Linked DNA regions of Homo sapiens: region 2 is linked to region 1. A link means that fine-mapping ties the variant in region 1 to the expression of a gene that starts in the linked region. Tissue or cell type: atrial appendage. Region 1 holds a variant in brackets; the other region holds the start of a gene. All regions are shown on one strand. Distances are from middle to middle.

Evidence for each region. PIP is the estimated chance that this variant, and not a neighbour inherited with it, causes the effect.
Region 2: it holds the start of NQO2, and the variant in region 1 is fine-mapped to the expression of NQO2 in atrial appendage (GTEx, PIP 0.96).

What each region holds. Positions count from the first base shown.
Region 1 is chr6:3,448,608-3,456,711 of GRCh38, reverse strand. It overlaps SLC22A23 (solute carrier family 22 member 23), which reads left to right. Exons shown (of 10, transcript NM_015482.2): 1 at 1-806. The coding sequence starts at 153. LOC643327 (a long non-coding RNA gene) reads right to left here and starts at 1,009. Exons shown (of 2, transcript NR_147844.1): 1 at 461-1,009. The variant T/A (reference allele first, on the strand shown) is at 3,461.
Region 2 is chr6:2,996,013-3,004,096 of GRCh38, reverse strand. NQO2 (N-ribosyldihydronicotinamide:quinone dehydrogenase 2) reads right to left here and starts at 4,203. Exons shown (of 7, transcript NM_000904.6): 1 at 4,012-4,203. It overlaps NQO2-AS1 (NQO2 antisense RNA 1), which reads left to right and starts at 4,422. Exons shown (of 2, transcript NR_186367.1): 1 at 4,422-4,706. RefSeq lists a silencer at 4,205-4,454.

The sequences.
Region 1 (8,104 bases):
CGCACCCGGAGCCGCCGAGCGCTCTCTCTCGAGCCGCGGGCCCTCCTCGGCGGCAGCGGCTGCAGGCGCCTGGCCCGGCGCGCTGTGCCCGGGGCGCCCGCGGAGCCTCCGCCGCGCTCTATGCGCCTCTGCGGGAGCCGCGGGCCCGGGCCATGGCCATAGACCGGCGGCGCGAGGCGGCGGGCGGCGGGCCTGGGCGGCAGCCGGCCCCGGCCGAGGAGAACGGCTCCCTGCCGCCCGGGGACGCGGCGGCCTCGGCGCCCCTCGGGGGACGCGCGGGCCCCGGCGGCGGCGCGGAGATCCAGCCGCTGCCCCCACTGCATCCTGGAGGCGGCCCGCACCCGAGCTGCTGCTCCGCGGCTGCGGCCCCGAGCCTCTTGTTGCTGGACTATGACGGGTCGGTGCTGCCCTTCCTCGGGGGCCTGGGCGGGGGCTATCAGAAGACCCTCGTGCTGCTCACCTGGATCCCGGCGCTGTTCATCGGCTTCAGCCAGTTCTCGGACTCGTTCCTCCTGGACCAGCCCAACTTCTGGTGCCGCGGGGCCGGCAAAGGCACCGAGCTGGCAGGGGTCACCACCACAGGCCGGGGCGGGGACATGGGCAACTGGACCAGCCTCCCCACCACCCCCTTCGCCACTGCCCCCTGGGAGGCTGCGGGCAACCGGAGCAACAGCAGCGGCGCGGACGGAGGCGACACACCACCCCTGCCATCCCCTCCGGACAAGGGGGACAACGCCTCCAACTGTGACTGCCGCGCATGGGACTACGGCATCCGCGCCGGCCTCGTCCAGAACGTGGTCAGCAAGGTAAGGGCCGCAGCCGCCCAGTCCCTCCAACCCTCTCCCTGCAGACCGAGGTCCAAGCCCGAGCCAGCGGGAGAACCGAAGTCCCCAAAGTGGTGGTGCTAGAGTGTGTGTAGGGCATTCCGCATTGGCTTAATCTCCTTCCGTCCCCCAAACCACATGCCTTTACTTGGGTGTAAAGGGAGCACCATAGCCTTTACTAGTTTGCACCCAAACTCCTGTCCCAGTACGCGGATGGAAAGCGCGCCCTTCCCCCACCCTCGGGGCGAGGCAGCTGACCTGTCACCAGCCCCCTCTGGAGGAGTCGGACTGGCGTCGTTCAAGGTCTGCTGGGGGAGTCGGGACCACAGCCCTGTTCTGCCCGGCTAGTTGTCCCTGGGTCTCCCACAAAGCAATAGTCTTCCATCTCGCACTTGATTTTGACACAGGTAAAGCCTACTAAAGAACTGGAGAGCCAGAGAAGCAAAGACTCCTGCAAATCCCCAACCCGCAGCCGATGCTTAGTCCTCCCCAAAGATATCTGACTTTAGGCTTTGCTACCCCAGTGTCTCCTCCCATGTTTTCTCAGCACTTCAGTAAACATCACTACAGTATAGGAAGGACGCGGAGAATATGTCATTTGGGTGTTCCCCGGCCGTCACCGCTCTTACACAGCAGCTGCTTTGGGCTGAGGCACTGAGAACGGGGGTGTGCTTTAGCTGAAACATGCACCTTGTCCTCTGAGTCCTGTAGCTAAAGCTCCCTTGCAGAGGTATTGCGTGGTGTGAAATGTAGCAGAAGGGAGTTGTGAGACAAGTGTGAAGGCCTAAACACAGAGTGGGCAATGGTGGACACTCAATGCCCCTAGACAGCTGTAATTTTATTCTTAACATATAAGAGATATCAAGACATTTGTAGTTTTGCTCCTTGTGTCTAAACTAATTAATTCACATTTTAAAGTAAATACAGACTCTCCTCCACCCCACCCGCTACCCATTCTGGGCTGTTCTGGCAGAGTTTTAAATGCTTTGTCGAAATGTATGAAATTGGACAGTTTTAAATAGTCAATGTGCATGTAACCTCCTCCCCCCGTGTGCATTGGTTAACAGTTGTAGCTCATGGATGTGTAAGATAAACTCTTACATCATCATAATCATTGTTTTAATCTTGTACCAACCTGGCCAGAAATGCTCTGTCCTGTGGGAACTGTCTGACTGAGCTGCCCCTGCTGCCCTGCAAGGTAATGGGGAAGGTCCTTCTAGCTGGGTTCACCTTGATCCCACCCACCTCCTACCCCCTGCTTTCTAAAGGTGTTTCTGTGACTGTTTTCCCTTCACGGAGGGCAATATTTCTTTGTTGGTTTAGCAGCAAAGAAAAATTAAGAACAATGACTATTTAAATCACTGTGTATGTCTGACAGACTGAGGATTTGGCAACATTGTTAAGTATTTCAAGTGTCTTTCTAGAGCAGAGGGAGAATAATGGATCAAAGTGAGTATGTGTGAAGAGCGCTGTGTCCTGGGGTCAAAGTAGAGGTGAACTTGAAAGTGATGAGATGGGATAGAGTGCCATTACCTTGGCAGTGAGGACCCAGGAAACAGCTATTCACACTCAGCCATGCACGGTGGGAGGAGAGAACAAAAATAGTTCTTAAAAGCAGACTATGGAGGCATATTGGAGAGCTGGGCAGTTTTTCTAAATTAGCATTCGAGAGGGTCACAGACAGCCCTCATGTGTGTGGCATGTTTTGGGTGATGCTTGATGACACGTTGCAGTTACTGGGCCAGACTGAGAGGGGAAACCTGGGAACAATAATTAGACACACATTTTCTTATACAGTAAAGCCTAGAAAGGACATATTGATTTTCACAGACAAAAAAGATCTAAATAAAGGACTGCCTTCCCAGTGTTCTGTGTGTTTCAAGCACATAACAAATGCTTCAAAGAGCTTTTCAAGCACATTTTGGCATGTTGGAAGGCAGACTTTTCCTGTGCTGCTGTGTATGTTGAATACTGTATCAGATGCACTAATGTGGGATGTACACTATGGTGAGTGCAGGAGTTCCAGGGGTCAGGTGCTTGTCAGCCCACATCCCAAGTAGAAGCAGAAAGTGGAAGGAGCCTTTGCCTTCTTTCAGTGGATAAAAGCTCAGGGTTTGAGAAGCTGCCTTTTGTGCCTCTTTCCTGCTCTGTTCCATGATCTTTCTCTTGCAAATAAGCCTCATGCTGTCTTCAGCATGTATCCTGTATTTAGTATGTATCCTTTAGCGTGTGTGTGCCCTACAATATATGCACCATTCTGTCCCTAGGTGTCAGAAAGGGAGAGGAAGACAGAAGAGCTACCAGGCACAGTTCTGGACCTCTTTCTCATGTGGCTGCTGGTATCCTAGCACCTACCTACACACGTGAAACTGTCAAGCCAGTTAGAATCCCAGGTTATTGTAGTTAAAAGGGATCTTAGGGCTGACCAGCCTCTCTCGCCTTCTGCATGATATCTCTAACATGAAGTTATCCATCCTAGTTTGAACACTTCCATCGATGGAAAGGGAGTGCTTTGTTAACAAGGCAGCTAGTCCATCCCGTAGTTGCTTTTCCTTGCAGGAAGGCACACTTTGGTAAATAAAACTCAGGTTAACTCATGCCTATTTGTGCCACTTGCTCCTCAGAATAATTTTTTT[T/A]AAAAAATTATTTCTTAAATAAAATGTGTTTTCAATAGCTTCTTTCCTGGCTGAAAAATCTACAGTACTTAAGCTATTCCATACGTGCAAAAATTTGCCATACTTATCGCTCTGGTTGGCATGTGTGTCTCTTAAGCATGGTACCCAGAATCCAACCCAGCCAGGCCCTGTGTGTTCTAACCCAAAGAGGGGATTGATGGATACTGTCCTTCCCCTACTGCAACCTAGAGTTGATTCATTAGGCTTAAACTAGACATGACATACTTCTGCTTCCAGACCATGATCACCAACCCCTCCAATGTTGTTTTCCTGGGAGTGGTGGATGAAATCAGGATTTTCTCAGTTTTAGGCTCATGTAGCATGACCATGACTTAGGTTTCATCTTAACAATTTTGAGTTTCTAGATCTCTCCCGTTAGGATCTTTTTATTTTTTGCCTTGGCCTTTGTATTTGTTATTGGTACCAGAATTTGCATCGCAGAATCTGCAATGCCTTCAAAATAATGACAACATTAATGTCAGTTTCTTTTGTGCAGCCCTTTATAGTTTATAAAACATTTCATATACATTATTTTCTTTGATTAAGAATAATAACCCAAGGTCAGTCTCTAGGCTTTTTTTTTTTTTTTTTTTTTTTTTTTTTTTTTTTTTTTAGACAGCGTCTGGCTCTGTTGCCCAGGCTGGAGTCCAGTGGTACGATATCACAGCTCTCTGAAGCCTCCACCTCCCAGGCTTAAGTGATCTTTCTGCCTCAGCCTCCTGAGTAGCTGGGACTACAGGCATGCACCACCACACCTGGCTCATTTTTATTTTTATTTTTTTGTAGAGAGGGGGGTCTTGCTATATTGCCCAGGCTGGTGTTGAACTCCTGGCCTCAAGCTGTCCTTCTGCCTCGGCCTCCCAAAGTGTTAGGATTATAGGTGTGAGCCACCAGCCAGACTAATAGCAGGTGCCAATCATGGATTTTAAGTCAGTGAACACACAGTTGAGTGTGCCATGTGTTCTGTACAAGAACCAGGTACAGATGCTCCTCTGCTTCGGATGGTGTTGTGTCTTGTGTCCAGATAAACCCCTCATCAGTTGGAAATATTGAAAGTGGAAAATACATTTAATACACCTAACCTACTGAATATGCTGGCTTAGCCCAGCCTACCTCAGATGTGCTGAGAACACTCACATTAGCCCACAGTTGGGCAGAATCATCTCACACAAAGTCTGTTTTATAATGTGTTGAATATCTCGTGTGACTTACGGAATACTGTACTGAAAGTGAAAAAGAGAATGGTTGTGTACTTCAGATACTCACACAACCATCGTGTTTTTCACTTCTGGTGAATAAAGCAGCCCTTATCGATACAGTTTCTACTGAATGTGTATCGTGTTCACACCATCATCAAGTCAAAAAATCATCAAGTTGAACCGTTTTAAGCCGGGGACCATCTGTGTTCAACTTTCTGATGACTTTCACAAGCTCTGCATTTTATCTCCCAGCTCTGTTGTAAGGTATTGTCAGTGCCTTGCAGAAAAGAATCAAATTCCTTCCAAGTGACATAGACAGCAAGTTTTGGAGAGCTAAGGACAAACAGGGCCGCAGCTCAGCTCAGTTGGCTTGCTTCTCCCACACCAGCATTCCCTGCGCAGCCCAAGTTCTCAGATACTTCTGAGATCTTAGTCAACAAAGTTAAAACAAAACAAAACAAAACAAAAAAACAAAGACTCCATGGACTTGCAAATATTGCGCTTAATGATTTGCACAGGCTGGGTGCAGTGGCTCACGCCTGTAATCCCAGCACTTTGGGAGGCCTAGGTGGATGGATCATTTGAGATTAGGAGTTTGAGACCAGCCTGGCCAACATGGTGAGCCCTCATCTCTACTAAAAATAGAAAAATTAGCTGGGCGTGGTGGCGCACGCCTCTAATCCCAGCTACTAGGGAGGCTGAGGCAGGAGAGTCCCTCAAGCCTGGGAGTGAGAGGTTGCAGTGAGCGAGATCGCGCCACTGCACTCCAGTCCGGGCGACAGAGTGAGACCCTGTCTCAAAAAATAATAATAATTTGCACAGTGTATCCTGCATTGTTCTGACTGAATCTGTTGGTTTCTAATACTCAGCACTTTCTTGAGTAATCTCTAGAACTTTTGCCAATAATCAATGCCAGCTGAACTTGCCCCAATTTTTTCTGTATTTGAAATGTAGGATGTTTGTCCAGCTCCAATCTTCTGGTAGCATTTCCTCTGTTCTCATGAATTTGCAAAGATTTCTGACCTTTATCCTGAAAGTTGCTTAAATATCCTGGGAAGTAATTTGTATCCTTTTTCTAGGGCTAAAGAGTAGAAGTTATTTAAAGTGACTTTAAGTACAATTTAATTAAGACTAGAAATAATTATATCATTGCAACAGTAACACTTTTAAAAATAGCCCACAATTCCATGATCCTAGTTATCATATGATGACTAGTTTTCACTTTTGAAATGCCTTACACACAAACCTGTTTTCACAGTTCTAATCAAAGTGTTTATTTAATGGAATCTACTATTTTCTTGACACCTCATCAAAAGAATTTGTCCATTTCTTCCGAAACATTTTAAATGCATGATATTTTTGCTGATTTATTAAAAGTTCTTAAATTCTTTTCCTAATACCGAACTGACGGCCGGGCACAGTGGCTCACGCCTGTAATGCCAGCACTTTGGGAGGCCGAGGCGGGCGGATCACGAGGTCAGGAGTTCCAGACCAGCCTGGCCAACATAGTGAAACCCCATCTCTACTAAAAATACAAAAATTAGCCGGGCATGGTGGTTTACGTCTGTATTCCCAGCTACTCGGGAGGCTGAGGTAGGAGAATCGCTTGAACCTGGGAGGCGGAGGTTGCGGTGAGCCGAGATCACTCCACTGCACTCCAGCCTGAGCAACAGAGCGAGACTCCGTCTCAAAAAAAAATAATAAAATACTGAACTGACTACCATGAGGTCATCCCAGTGGTGGCTTTTGTCTAGTATATGCAACAACAGTGGATATCTTCATGCATATCTATTTTTAAAAATTGACTATAGTAGGTAATACATGTACATTGTACAGAAAGCATAGCATAAAAGTAACATTTCTTTCTGTCTCTGCCCCCAGTTTCCCTCTTCAGAAGCAACCATGGTTACCAGTTTCTCACATCCCCTTCCAGAAATGTTCTACTTTCATTTACATATTTTGTCTCAGAAACACTAGCGTATCCGAAACACTGTTTTTTCACTTATGCTGGAGATGAATACATCAGTACATAGAGATACTCATTCTTTTTTATGTCTGCATAGTATTCCATTGTCAGACTGGACTGCCATTTATTTAACTAATCACTTACCGAGGAAGCATTAAGTTTGTCTCCAGTCTTTGCTGTTATATTCACAATATATCACGAAATCTTGGCATGCACAGACATTTGCACACGTGTAAGAAATTTTTAGAAGTGGGAGGGTGAAAGTAGGCTGCATTTTTATGTTAATACTGTCAGAGTGTTTTCTGTAGAAATCTTAGCTATGCACAATTATACTAATAATATGTGTGGTTCTGTTCCCTACACCCTCCCTGACCCAGGGGATTATCAAATCTTTACATATTTTCTAGTTTGATGTGCAAAAAATTGTATTTGGTGGTGGTTGTGACTTGCATTTCTCTTGTTATGAAGGAAGTTAAACATCTTTTTGAAAGTTTTTGAGCCATCCATATTTCCTGTTCTTTGAACAGTCTCTTCATTTCCTTTGCCTTTATGTGTGTGTATATGCTGTGAGAAGCATTATTTTCTTATGTATTTATAGGTACACTTTATGTATGATGTAAATTAACCCTTCTGGATGACTTGTAACCATTTTCCTCGAGTTTGCTGTTTGGTTTTTTAAATTTTGTACATGATATTTTTGTTATGTAGAAACGTATGGTTTGGTTAGAGTTGTATGAATTAATCTTCTTTTTTATGATTTCTTATGTTAGCTTTAAGGCTTGGAAGATTCCTGGAAGACTGGGGGGAAATCCTATGTTTTCTTCTAACATTTTTATGATCTTATAACTTCTTTATTTTGGGGTTGGAGATACCTGTTTTGCTTTTCTGAGCTATTAGGATAAATTGCTAGAAAGGTCAGAGGATATAACCAGCATTTCATGCAGACGTTGACTTGCTTGTAACAACGTCCTAAACATTTAGTTTGGCAGTGGCCCTTATTAATGTAAGGATTAGAGGCTAGCCAGCTGTTAAGCAGCCTTTCCACCTCCGTTTGGGAGATAGCTGTCTTCCCAGGTCACAGGTCTCCCTTTCCTTCTTCATCTTCCTGTTCTGAACCATCTGCAGATCTCTCCCTCTCCCTCTCCGTCTCCCTCTGCCTCTCTGTAGCAACATTTTCTGCAGGTGCCTTTACTTTGGCCTTTAGTCCAAGATAGGATTGAGTCGAAAGTTGGTGTCATTTAAAAACATGGTGGGGGCTGGGCGCGGTTGCTCACGCCTGTAATCCCAGCACTTTGGGAGGCCGAGGTGGGCGGATCACGAGGTCAGGAGTTCAAGACCATCCTGGCCAACGTGGTGAAACCCCGTCTCTACTAAACATACAAAAAAATTAGGAGGGCGTGGTGGCGGGCGCCTGTAGTCCCAGCTACTCGGGAGGCTGAG
Region 2 (8,084 bases), 450 kb after region 1:
AGCTCCCTCTGGCTTTGTCGCTGGCTCTCTTCCCAGCTGGACTGTGGGATGATGTTAGGGCTCAGTCAGCCTTCTTGTCGTCCTGGGGATGGAGGCTATGCACCAAGGGCAGGGAGCAGAAATACCAAAGGAACCTGGATTCCCGGGGCTCTCTTGGGGCTGCAAGATGGTGGTGGATTGGCAACTGCAGATATTTGTGTTTATGTATTTTCCATGCAGAAACATCTACAATGGCACTGAGTCTGTAGCGAGGGCCATGCACTGTCTGTCTGAAAGTGCTCCAGGCACAGGCTTTGTGTCCAAGTACCTTGCTGTGTTTAAGGTACATCACAGCACCGGAGAATGTGGGAGAGGTCACATTCATCCCTTCAAAGCGCAGGGAGGTTCCTATTCTGACACCAGCAACACTTACAAGAATGAACCTAAAGCTGGGCAGTGAGGAAGGAAAGGAAAAAGAAAGTTTATGAATACAGGTAGTATTGTTTGAACCGGTAAGTTGCACTATAAATCACAATAAAAGATAGTCTGTATATCACTAAAACAGAAGAGTTGGCCGCCCTGAGGATGAGGCCTTTGGGTCTCCAGGCATTTGCCAGCTCTCCTAGCCTAGGGGCAGGGGCGCCTGCACAGCCCTCTGCTTTTCCTAGAATTCTCAGCAGCGAGCATGTGTCAGGGAGAGACATGGTTGTCTTAGCACTGAGGCTGAAATCCTGGATGTTCTTGGGAGGGCAGTGATTGTGAAGAACAAGTTACTTGTCTAGTTCCTGGGGGTCACTCCTCAAAGCCTCCCGATGAGGCAAGTTTACAGGATCCATGCTCCCTGAGCCAGCAGTGACACCCACACTTGGCAGTGAGAAGTGGGGCTGTAACTTACAGGGTGAGCCAAAATGGCGGGTCTGGAAAGGGATTATCTTAAAGGAAAAAGAGAGGAGAGTGAGTGACTTCATCATTAGCTGGGAGGCTCTACAGTGCCCTGGTGGACAGTCACTGCCTGGAGGTGACTTTGTAGAAAGCAAACTTTGGCTATCACAATGCATAGGGAGGCCTGGCAAAGCCCAGGGAAGCAGAAGGCCCAGCACTTTGAGAGGCTGAGGCAGGAGATCACTTGAGCCTAGGAATTTGAGACCAGCCCGGGCAACATAGTGAGATCCCATCTCTACCAAAGATTTTTAAAAATTAGCCAGGTGTGGTGGTGCATGCCTGTAATCCCAGCTACTCAGGGGGCTGAGATTAGAGGATTGCTCCACTCCAGACTGGGTGACAGAGTTAGGCTCTGTTTCAAGAAAAAAGAGAAAGTAAAAGAAAAAAAAGAAAGCCTGTTTGGCTGAACTGTGGTTCAAAAAAAAAAAGAGTGGATGGTGGTAGATGCAGTCAGGGAGGTGGGAGGGGTCTGACCTGACCCCTCCTAGGGTAGGGGTGAGGATTTTATTCTAAGCCTGACAGAAAGCCCTTGGAGCCTCTTAAGCTGGAGAGTAATATGGAATGATCGCCAGTTGTGGTGGCTCACACCTGTAATCCCAGCATTTTGGGGGGCCGAGGTGGGGGGATCACCTGAGGTCAGGAGTTTGAAACCAGCCTGGTCAATGTGGCAAAACACCATCTCTACTAAAAAATACAAAAATTATCCGGGTATGGTGGCATGTGCCTGTAGTCCCAGCTACTTGGGAGGCTGAGGCAGGAGAATCACTTGAACCTGGGAGGTGGAGGTTGCAGTGAGTCAAGATTGTGCCATTGCACTCCAGCCTGGGCAACAGAGCAAGACTCTGTCTCAAAAAAGAAAAAGAAAATAGAGTGATATGAAATGATTTACCTTTGTAAATGTTGCCAGTGTTTCTGCAGACTGGGGGAACACCTTATCCTGATTCCCAAAGTGATTGCCCGAAATCATGTTGTTTGTATGAAATGCTTCATTTTCACTCCTCTAGACAGGGCATCCATTCTTCAGTGTCCCCAGCTCACCACTCCCTTTTGTATTCCTTGGCCCAGTTTACATGTTTACATCATATGGCTGGTGGCATGTGAGTTTGTGACTTCTGTCTCCATCCCCCTAGCGGTTAAGAATAAGAATCTGAGGTCCAAGAGCTGAGTGACTAACTCAGCTCTATTTGAGTGACTCAGCTCTATTTTCTATACTATTTGAAATAGTGGGGAAAGACTCCAACACAGGCTCTTGACTTGCAGTTGTGTCACTGTTCACTTGACCCCAGGCACTTCCCTTGGCACCCCATCCACAGCAGTGACAGTTCTCTCCCTTTTTAGAAACTATGCACCTACCCAGGCCTACAGGAAAAAAGAGCCATGTGGTTATTAAACTGTATATACCAGGTCAAGTGGGCTCTGATATTTTTGACGTGTACATTATTTAATTTTAAGAAGTTATTTTATAATGTTTTCACTTTTTTTCCTGTGCCTCTTTCCATGTGGACAGTCCCCGTGCTGGGCATTCTAACAGACAACATCTCACAGTGTATTCAGTGTGTATTCATGCGGCAGCTAAACCATTGCCTGCATACCCTTTTGTGCCCATTTTCCTATTTCTGGGACCTTAGGTTATTTCCATTTTTTTCCCAAAACTATAAACAGCACAGCTAGAAGTATATATTATTTAATACTTGTTCCTTTTCATGTATTTCTTTGGCTGTGATCTTCGGAGATTAAAGGTTAAACTGATTTATTTTTTCAGAGATTAAAGGTTAAAGAAGCTGATTTTTGGCCGGGCGCAGTGGTTCATTAATCCCAGCACTCTGGGAGGCCGAGGCAGGCGGATCACCTGAGGTCAGGAGTTTGAGACCAGCCTGACTAATATGGTGAAACTCCATTTCTACTAAAAATACCAAAAATTAGCTGGGTGTAGTGGCACGCACCTGTAATCCCAGCTACTCGGGAGACTGAGGCAGGAGAATAGCTTGAACCCGGGAGGCAGAGGTTGCAGTGAGCTGAGATTGTGCCATTGCACTCCAGCTTGGGCAATAAGAGTGAAACTCCATCTCAAAAAAAAAAAAAAAAGAAAAAGAAAGGAAGAAGAATGAGTTCAAGACCAGCCTGGCCAATATGGTGAAACTCCCACCTGTACTAAAAATACAAAAATTAGCCGGGCATGGTGGCAGGCGCCTGTAATCCCAGCTACTCAAGGGGCTGAGGGGGGAGAATCGCTTGAACCTGGAAGGCAGAGGTTGCAGTGAGCTGAGATTGCCCCACTGCACTCCAGCCTGGGCAACAGAGTGAGACTCTTCTAAAAAAAAAAGAAAAAAGAAAAAGAGGGCCGGGAGCAGTGGCTCACGCCTGCAATCCCAGCACTTTGGGAGGCCCAGGCGGGCGGATCACGAGGTCAGGAGTTTGAGACCAGCCTGACCAACATGAAACCCGTCTCTACTAAACATACAAAAAATTAGCCAGGCGTGGTGGCACGCCCCTATAATCCCAGGTACTCGGGAGGCTGAGGCAGGAGAATTGCTTGAACCCGGGAGGCGGAGGTTGCAGTGAGCCGAAATCGTGCCACTGCACTCCAGCCTGGGCGACAGAGTGAGACTCCGTCTCGGGGAAAAAAAAAAAAGCTGATTTTTTTTTTTCCCAGAGAGATTATAGGTTAGAGAAGCTGATTTTTCATTTTTTCCACAGTGCCACAATGTCCTTGACAAAGGCAGCGCAAACCAGTGGTTCAGCCGCGCCTTCAGGGCAGCGCTGGGCAGCGCACGGGCCTAAACCCCGGTACCCCCTTTACAGACTGACCTTGGGCCCGCTGATTCCTACTTGTAATATGACTATGATACCAGCACCCGCTCCATAGGGTTGAGGGCAGATTCCACCAGACGATTCGACACCGGGACCCTGCGTGTGGGCGCGTTCCGTGAGAGCCAAGCACGATCCTATGTACAGAATGGTCCCTGGCCCGGGCGCGACGACCCACAGGGCCATATGGCCGGCCAGCTGAAATCCCTGAGAGCGTTCTGGCCGTCCAGTCCGGGAACTGTCCTTCCCAAGTCCCCCGGTCCCCGACAGGGGATCACTCACCTTCCGACCAGCGCACTCCCCAGTAGGAGCCGCAGGACTGGGACCCGCGTCTCCCCAAGGACCGCTCTAGGAGTTGCGCCAGGTTCCGGCCGCACTGGACCGCGCACTCGCTGACGCCTGGAGGGCGGGAGCGCTGCGACTGCGCCCCCGGGGACCACGGACCGGTGCCAACCTAAGCAGCCCGGAACCTGCCCCGCGCCGCGGGACTGCAGGCCTCTTTACGCAGCGCGCCTACCACGCCGAGGCCCCGCCCACTCACCCGCCCCGCCCGTGAGCCCCGCCCACACCCCGCCCCGCCCCCGAGCCCCGCCCACTCCCCGCCCCGGCGGTGCGGTGCCTCGCTCCGCGCCCGTCCGCGCCCAGGCCCCGCCTCCACAGCGGCGTCCCGCCCCACCCACACCTCGCCTCGGCCCCTAAGCTCCGCCCACTCCCCGCCCCTGAGGTCCATCTGGGGCCTCGCCCGGCGATCTGGGACTGGGGAGGACCCTGCTGACTTCCAGGCAGGTGGAAACTGGATTGATAGAAATCCAGCGCGGGGAGGCTGTGCTGAGAGGAGGGACGCCCCTGCCCTGCGCCTCCCGCTCCCCATCTCTGGCTGGTATCCCGGTTACAGAATGAGGGTCCGTGGTGCAACAGAAAGAATGAGCCACTGATACACTCATCAGCTTGCTCGGATCTCCCGGGGAGTTACGCTGGTGAGAGAAACCAGTCCCAAAGGTCACTCACCGACGGCGCCGCTGGTGTACTGGTATTATGCAAGATGCCCTCGCAAAGGTCACGCACGGATGGTTCATTTATCCAAAGACCAAAGGAGAGAAATGCAGGACTCATTAGCAGTGCCCAGGAGATAGGGGGGCGGGTGGGTGTGGCTATAAAAACGCAACCCGGGGGGTGCCTGTGAAGGAAATCTGCGTCCCGCGGAACGCAACACGCTGTTGGGATACTGGATTGTCCTTTGTGAGATGCCACTATCGGGGGAAACCGGATGGCTTCACAGAAAAAGTTCGTTTAAAGGAAAATGGTTTAAGGCCAAGGAAATACCTAGAAAACGGAAAGTCTTGAAACCAGAGCCGGTGGGGAGTTATGGGGGGCGGTGCTGGTGAACAGTTTGGGCCGACTTTTTCCAGCGCTTGCTGGCTTCTGCCACCTCATTTGGCAGTCACCTGCCACTGTGACCTCCCCAAGTCCCTTCTCCAAACTCAATTCCTTGATTTCTGGTGTCCCGGGATGGCCCCACTCCAACAATAGAGCAGAAGGAAGGAAGGTTTCCCCTGTGTTTAGAACGTTCCTAACGAAAATAACTGCAACTCTTGATTGTACCTCCTGAGGGTCGTTGGGACTTTCCCTCTCAGACATTTATTGGTTCATTCATTCGTTCATTTTGCTGTAACTCACAGTGGCCCTCCCCATCCTAAGGTGCACTGCTGGGATTGGTCTATGTGCTGATGATGTTCTCCTTGTCTTCAGAGGTGAGAATGTGCCCTCCCTCCGAGATGCCCTCTTGCCCCTGAGCTCCCCAGCAGGGAATAGGCTGCCTTGTCTTGTGAGTCCAGATCCTGGGAACAACTTTCATTTAGGAATGGAACAGCAGGTCCTGGGAGCATTGGCGCCTGCGCGCCCATCATGCGCGTGTGTGATGCAACATCACCACCTTGTGGCAGCGAGGAGCTATCACAACGTGGACTGAGCAAGTTGCTCCCTGCTTGGGGTTGGGAGCTGGACTGGCCTAGTTCCCTGGGTCTTTTGTAACCTGAATGGTGGTAGATTCCAGGACAGTTCAGTAGGAGCCCATCCTCAAAAGGAAAATAACAGAACTTCCTGCTAATCTGGTATTGGGGCTGAGCAATTACTGCACACTAATGAGATTGACCATAATTGCATCCTGAGTTTGAGGAGGAGGTCATGCTACTAAAATGAGATAAAATCAGCTCCAACGACAAACATCATCTCTGGGGGTTTCCAGATTCTCACTTTTCATTTAATCCCCAGCCTTAGTGGAAAGCAAGAGTCGGAGTCGGCATTCTGGGCAGGGAGGCAGGTGAGGCAGGTACACATCTCCTCTTCTCCCCAACGCCCCATGTTTCTATTTCTGAATAAAATGAACCATCATGGTGCTAAGGTAAAGCTAAACTAGCTGAGCCACCTCCTGAAGAGGTCATTGCTTTTGTTTTTATTTAATGAGATTTCTTTCCCTTCTGCTACCAGCATCCCTATTCCTTTGGAAAACTGCTTCTTCATAATAACATAAAGGTTTTGGATTTTTTGTTTTGTTTTTTGGGTAGCAAAATCTGTATAACATGAAATTTTCTATTTTCACCATTTTAAGTGTACAATTCAGTGGCATAAATTACCTTTAGAGTGCTGTGCAACCATTACAACTATTTATTTTCAAAACGTTTTCATCATCCCAAATAGAAACACTTGGGTCAGGGGCCATAGATCACGCCTGTAATCCCAGCACTTTGGGAGGCAGAGGCATGCAGATCACCTGAGGTCAAAAGTTTGAGACCAGCCTGGCCAACATGGCGAAACCCCATCTCTACAAAAATTTGCCAGGTGGTGTACACCTGTAATCCCAGCTACTCAGAGGCTGAGGCAGGAGAATTGCTTGAACCCAGGAGGCGGAGGCTGCAGTGAGCTGAGATCGTGGCACTGCACTCCAGCCTGGATGACAGAGCGAGACCCTGTCTCAAACAAAAACAAAAACAAATAGAAACACTGCACTCATTGGATAATAAATCCCCATTCTCCCCTCCTTCCACTCCTGGTAGCCTCTAATCTACTTTCTGTCTCCATGAATTTGTCTATTGCATGTATTTCATATAAGTGGAATCCTACAAGATGTGGCCTTTTCACTAAGCTTTTTTTCCTCAAAAACCTTGTTGCTGAGTTTCATCCATGTTGTAGTATGCATCAGAACTTCATTCCTTTTTATGGCCGAATAATAGAAAAATGTGTATACCGCCTGGCCAACGTGGGGAAACCCCATCTCTACTAAAAACACAAAAATTAGCTGGGCATGGTGGTGTGCACCTGTAGTCCCAGCTACTCGGGAGGCTGAGGCAGGAGAATCACTTGAACCCAGGAGGCAGAGGTGGCGGTGAGCTGAGATTGTGTCATTGCACTCAAGCCTGGGCAACAAGAGCAAGACTGACAGAAAGAAAAGAAAGAAGAAAGAGAGAAAGAAAAAGAAAGGAAGGAAGGAAGGAAGGAAGGAAGGAAGGAAGGAAGGAAGGAAGGAAGGAAGGAAGGAAGGGTACCAGGCATTGTTTATCCACTCATCTGTTGTTTGACTATTGTGAATAATATTGCAATGATTATTGGTGTACAAGTATCTGTTTCAGTCCCTGTGTTCAATAATTTTGGTTATACACCTTGGAGTGGAATTGTCGGTATTACAATTCTATGGTCATTCTATGTTTAGCTTTCTGAGGAACAGCCAAACTGTTTTCCACAGCGTCTACACCATTTCACATTTTCACCAACAATGTACACAGGTTCCAACTTCTCTACATTCTCACGCACATTTGTTATGTTTCTTTTTTTTCCCTCTAAATTATAGCCATCCTAGCAAGTGCGAAGTGGTATCTCATTGTGGTTTTGATTTGCATTTCCCTAAGGACTAATGACTTTGAGCATCTTTTCATGTGCTTACTGGCCATTTGTATACCTTCCTTGGAGAAATGTCTATTCAAGTCCTTTGTTGACCATTTAATTGGGTTGTTTGTCTATTTGTTGTTGAGTTGTAGGTTTTTTGTTTGTTTTTTGAGACGGAGTTTTGCTCTTGTTGCCCAGGCTGGAGTGCAATGGCGAGATCTCGGCTCACCGCAACCTCCGCCTCCTGGGTTCAAGTGATTCTTATGCCTCAGCCTCCCGAGTAGCTGGGATTACGGGAATACGCCACCACGCCTGGCTAATTTTATATTTTTAGTAGAGACAGGGTTTCTCCATGTTGGTCAGCCTGGTCTCAAACTCCCGACCTTAGGTGATCCGCCCACGTCGGCCTCCCAAAGTGCTGGGATTACAGGCGTGAGCCACCGCACCCGGCCGAGTTGTAGGTGTTCTTTACATAT